Linked DNA regions of Homo sapiens: region 2 is linked to region 1. The links come from fine-mapping of genetic effects on gene expression. A gene starts in region 1. The other region holds a variant in brackets. All regions are shown on one strand. Distances are between the middles of the regions.

Evidence for each region.
Region 2: its variant is fine-mapped to the expression of ANXA11 in whole blood (INTERVAL, PIP 0.94).

The regions. Positions count from the first base shown.
Region 1 is chr10:80,203,874-80,206,782 of GRCh38, reverse strand. ANXA11 (annexin A11) reads left to right here and starts at 1,246. Exons shown (of 16, transcript NM_145868.2): 1 at 1,246-1,440. RefSeq lists enhancers at 1-248, 2,888-2,909 and a silencer at 1,023-1,902.
Region 2 is chr10:80,153,882-80,156,790 of GRCh38, reverse strand. ANXA11 (annexin A11) reads left to right here. Exons shown (of 16, transcript NM_145868.2): 16 at 879-2,909. The coding sequence ends at 938. Among named protein-coding and RNA genes, the nearest start is that of PLAC9, 23 kb to the right of the region's middle. The variant G/T (reference allele first, on the strand shown) is at 1,362.

The DNA.
Region 1 (2,909 bases):
TCCTTCAGTAAGGAGCTAGGTAATGAAGAATGGTGAAGCGCACGATGGCGCGCAGTGTGCAGTGGATGGGAAGAACCAGGTCTGTTCAGGAGCACTTGTATGGAAAGACCCTCCAAGATATAGTGAGTAAAAAAACATGTTGCAGAAAAGTACTGCAATATCGTTTTGTAAACAATACGTTTATGTAAACACACACACACAGTGTTAAAGAGAGATATTTGGAAGGACACACCTAAGAGTGGGCTGGGGGAGTGGAGGGAAGAGTGAATCTCAATTTTTACTCATTTTTTGAATTTTTTATTTTTAGTTTTTTAGAGACTGGGTCTCACTATGTTGCCCAGGCTAGTCTGGAAGCCCTGTCTTCAAGCCATCCTCCTGTCTTGGCCTTCCAAAGTGCTGAGATTACAGGCGTCAGCCACCACTCATTAAAAAAAAAAATTGTATACCTACCATATATGCATATATTACCTGGGTGACCTTTTAAAAATATGCTTTATTTTTAGAACATCTTTAGATTTACAGAAAAAGTGTGAATACAGGGAATTCTCATAAACCCGGGCTTTTCCTATTATTAACATCTTAAGTCATTTTTATATCTCCGTGGGTTCCTCTTGGCTGTGACAGTGTCCTAGACTTTCCTTGTTTTTGATGACCTTGCTAGTTTTCAGGAGTACTGGTCATGTATATGGCAAGGGCCTCAATTGATTTGTGATGTTTTCCTCATGATTACAGTGGGGTTAGGTGTTCTTGGGAGGAAGACCACAAGCGGTGCATGCAATCAGTATGATTTACCCCTGTCGAGGTCACCTTGACGGCTGGGTGGTTTGTCAGGTTTCTCCACGATAGTCACTGACCGCTCCCTTCCTCACATACTGTGCGTGACCTTCCCCCCTCCACCACCACCGAGTGTTGCTATAAAGGAAATGCGTTTGACCTTTTCAGTGTAAAAAGTTTTCTCGACCTTAAAGAGAGTCACTAACCGACGCACACGGGGCTGGAGAGGACTTAGGAAATGCCCACCCCTGCAGGAGGGCGAATGCGGCTCTGCGCGGCACTGGGCGCCGCAGGGGTTAGGGGCGGCAGAGGGACCTCCGGAGCCCGAGACTTCCTGGAGCAGCTCCGCAGCCGGAAGGCTGCTGCTCCTCGCGGGCCCGCCGTGCCCAGTCCTCATCTTGGGGGCGGGGCCGCGCTCAGGCCCCGCCCCTCCCTTGCACTGCCTCTGGCACCTGGGGCAGCCGCGCCCGCGGAGTTTTCCGCCCGGCGCTGACGGCTGCTGCGCCCGCGGCTCCCCAGTGCCCCGAGTGCCCCGCGGGCCCCGCGAGCGGGAGTGGGACCCAGCCCCTAGGCAGAACCCAGGCGCCGCGCCCGGGACGCCCGCGGAGAGAGCCACTCCCGCCCACGTCCCATTTCGCCCCTCGCGTCCGGAGTCCCCGTGGCCAGGTGAGTGAGGGTCCCGAGCCGGCTGGGGGCCTGGGACCAGGCGGCGGCAGTGCACCGCGGCGCCGCGGGTGAGGCCCGGGGCTGCCTGGCGCCCAGCCCAGCGCGGCCCTGCGGCTTCCTGGTTGCACTACAGGCGTGGGGGTGGGGGGCAGGGGAGGGCGTCGGCGGGTCGCGGGCGGGCCGTGTCGGCCTGGCAGCCCCCTAGATCAGCCTCGGCGTCTGGGGCTGCTCCCTCATGTGTGGTCGGGGTGCACTCGCCGTCCCCCCGGGCTCAGGGGTCGGGGTCTCAGTCTGGGCCTGGGTAGGGCCAGGGGCCGTGACCCTGGGCGCAGGAGGCAACGGGTGGCGGGAGGGGTGCCGGAGGCCCGGCCCCGCAGCCCTGCGGAGCCCTCCAGGGTGCGCGCGCCCTTCTAGGCGAGGCTTGGGGAGATTAAGCAGAGAAGGCTATCTTCAGGAACTTTCCTCCGAAACTGGGAGCACGCACATTCCTGGGAGCTGCTACCATTGCAGTTTATTTGTAAGGAACTCTCCCCAGTGTTTGAGGGAATGCGGGAGCCATCCCAGGTGCTGTGCGTGCCTTCGCCCCTTCCCCAACCTTGATCCCCAGTTTCAGGAAGGGATTCCTGGACTTGTATCTCCCATGGGTGCAGGCCAGGCCCTTAAGACTTAGGTAAAATGGTCTGTTGGTTTAAAGGAGACACGCGAAGTTTGTTACCTAGAGACTTTGGAGGGGAAAAGTTAAGCCAGCCAGTGCTAGCCCAAGCTGGAAACAGTCAGCCCGGGGCATTTCTGTCTCTGCCCTCCAATCCTTGACCTCTCTGTAGAGATTCGGCGTTTGTGGTAGCTCTCCCCTCTGTTCTCTGCGCTGGGCATGGAGTGGAGCTGTGAGGCCGAGCCCCTGCCCTGCCCTGCCCTGCCCTGCCCACGCAACAGGGACTAGGTTTGCAGGGCAGGGCCTGGTATGCTCACCCTTCACTGGCTCTCATTGCTTTCCTCATTCCTTTTATGCGGCAGTCAATTGTTGGGGATTCCAGGGGATTAACAGGGCCCCTTTCCTCAAGGCATTCTTTGTGCTGCAAGGTGTTCCCTGATAAGAGAGGCCAGGTGAGGTGCCAGGGCAGTTTGTTGCCCTGGCATTGGGTGCCCACTACTTCAGGCTCCTGCATACCTTGCTATCTTTTCTTTGACTATTGTCTGTGCTTTGGTTTTTCATCTGTAAAATGGGGGTAATAGTAATCCCTGCCTCACAGGCTTGTGAGATTCAGTGCATTCATTTATTTAATAACAATACAGAGCTCAGGTACGGACCAGTCAGAACAGGTGGTGACTGCTGCACCACACTTGTGTATCCCAGATGGGTGTCACCCACATTAGCCATAAAGTGTGTGAGGCAGGCCTGGGTCATAAATAATCAGGTGTAAGGGTCAATAAATAGTAGCAGTGGAAGGTTCAGCTAAAGTTGAAATGCA
Region 2 (2,909 bases), 50 kb after region 1:
GGCTCACGCCTGTAATCCCAGCACTTTGGGAGGCTGAGGCAGGTGGATCATTTGAGGTCAGGAGTTCGAGACCAGCCTGGCCAACAAGGTAAAACCCTGTCTCTACTAAAAATACAAAATTAGCTGGGCTTGCCTGTAATCCCAGCTAATTAGGTAGGCTGCGGCAGGAGAATTGCTTGAACCCGGGAGACAGAGGTTGCAGTGAGCTGGGATCACGCCATTCCACTTCAGTCTTGGTGACAGAGTGAGACTTCGTCTCAAAAAAAAAAAGAGAGTTAATAATTCATTACAGAGTATCTCCTGCATGCCAGCAAGCTATGGACATCTGGAAGAAGCCACATGCCTTGCCCTCAAGTTGCTTAGGGTGGAAGGAAATGATTAGAAATGAGCCAAGCCGAGCCTGCACTCTTAGAGTAAGTGTAGTGGCCTCAGACAGAGGAGAGATCCCTGGGACCTGGGCAGTCTGAGCCTTCCACTGGACAGTCATGTGTGAGGAGATTGCATTTCCTGAGCAGGACACTGTGTTGCGTTACATTGGTAACCCCAATTTAAGGCAGCATAAATGCACTGGGAAAACAGCAATATTGGTTAGCCCTGGGAAGTGGTTTTTAGGATGATTATAATTTTTTTTTGTGGGTATTCATTTGATGTGGATAGCTGGGGTGAGTGCTGCTTTCCGTCTTCTGATGGGGGCCTGGAGAAGGCTGAACTGCATTTTTTAAGGTCTGTGACGCCTGCTGCAGGACCTGCAGTGGGAGAAAATTCCCCAGGGTGGGGCTTTCTCCCTATAAGGGTGCTCAGGGCTGAATATCAGGACCCAGAAGGCTGAAAGTGACTGTCCCTCCCTTAACGGATGTCTTCCTTGTTTCTGTGGCCAGGGAGATACTTCAGGGGATTACCGGAAGATTCTGCTGAAGATCTGTGGTGGCAATGACTGAACAGTGACTGGTGGCTCACTTCTGCCCACCTGCCGGCAACACCAGTGCCAGGAAAAGGCCAAAAGAATGTCTGTTTCTAACAAATCCACAAATAGCCCCGAGATTCACCGTCCTAGAGCTTAGGCCTGTCTTCCACCCCTCCTGACCCGTATAGTGTGCCACAGGACCTGGGTCGGTCTAGAACTCTCTCAGGATGCCTTTTCTACCCCATCCCTCACAGCCTCTTGCTGCTAAAATAGATGTTTCATTTTTCTGACTCATGCAATCATTCCCCTTTGCCTGTGGCTAAGACTTGGCTTCATTTCGTCATGTAATTGTATATTTTTATTTGGAGGCATATTTTCTTTTCTTACAGTCATTGCCAGACAGAGGCATACAAGTCTGTTTGCTGCATACACATTTCTGGTGAGGGCGACTGGGTGG[G/T]TGAAGCACCGTGTCCTCGCTGAGGAGAGAAAGGGAGGCGTGCCTGAGAAGGTAGCCTGTGCATCTGGTGAGTGTGTCACGAGCTTTGTTACTGCCAAACTCACTCCTTTTTAGAAAAAACAAAAAAAAAGGGCCAGAAAGTCATTCCTTCCATCTTCCTTGCAGAAACCACGAGAACAAAGCCAGTTCCCTGTCAGTGACAGGGCTTCTTGTAATTTGTGGTATGTGCCTTAAACCTGAATGTCTGTAGCCAAAACTTGTTTCCACATTAAGAGTCAGCCAGCTCTGGAATGGTCTGGAAATGTCTTCCTGGTACCAACTTGTTTTCTTCTGCTTGATTCTGCCCTGTGGCTCAGAGGTCTGGCCTTATCAGCCAGTGAAAGTTCATGTAACCTTACGTAGAGATTTGTGTGCAGGAAACCCTGAGCATACACTAGTTTGCAGGGACTCGTAAGGACATGGGAAGGGAGGTTCCCGAAATCCAGGCAGGAGGCCCAGACACCTGAAAGGCAAAGGGATCTTGGTTGGTTGCAGGTGCAGTGAAGTCCACTGAAGGTGTGGTGCGAAGAATGCAGTCCTTCACCCAGGTCCCAGGAGGGAAGAAGGGTGTGTGCTAATTCCTGGTGCCCCTCGGCGGGGGCCAGAGAGAAGGATGGGGACAACCCAGAGAGTCACAAGACCAGTGCCTCCCCTCAGGGTGCCTCCAGGCTGAAAGGGGCTCCTGGCTCTGGTCTCTGGGGACCCTGTGCCCGTTGGTTGGTGGTGTGAGGGAAGAGAATCCATAAGAGAGTTTCTGAGAATTATGGTGTCATGTCCAGAAGCTAGAGCTTACCTTGCATCAGGGGTCTCCACCCACTCCTTTTCCAACCTCCTGCGTTGAGGTTTAGAAAAGAGAGAATCGACTAGGCACTATGGCTCACGCCTGTAATCCAAGGACTTTGGGAAGCTGAGGTGAGAGGATCACTTGAGCTCAGGAGTTCAAGACTAGCCTAGCCAACAGCGAGACCCCTGTCTCTACTAAAAAATTTGGCCAGGCGTGGTGGCTCACGGCTGTAATCCCAGCACTTTGGGAGGTGAGGCGGGCAGATCACCTGAGGTCAGGAGTTCGAGACCCAGCCTGGCCAACATGGTGAAACCCCATCTCTACTAAAAATACAAAAATTAGCCAGGCATGGTGGCACATTCCTGTAATCCCAGCTACACAGGATGCTGAGGCAGGAGAATCACTTGAACCCAGGAGGCAGAGGTTGTAGTGAGCTGAGATCACACCATTGCACTTCAACCTGGGTGGACAGAGTGAGACTCTGTCTCAAAAAAAAAAAAAAATTTACCTGGCATTGTAGTGCATTCCCTATAGTCGGCTACTCTGGAGGCTGAGGCAGGAAGATCCTTAGAGCCCAAGAAATTGAGGCCGTAGTAAGCTGTGATTACACCACTGCACTCCAGCCTGGACAACAGAGCGAGACCTTGTCTCAAATGAGAAAAAAACAAAAAGAAATGGGAGAATCCAGAGAGACTAGGCTAGATCAAGCCTGCTGGGTCCTGGCA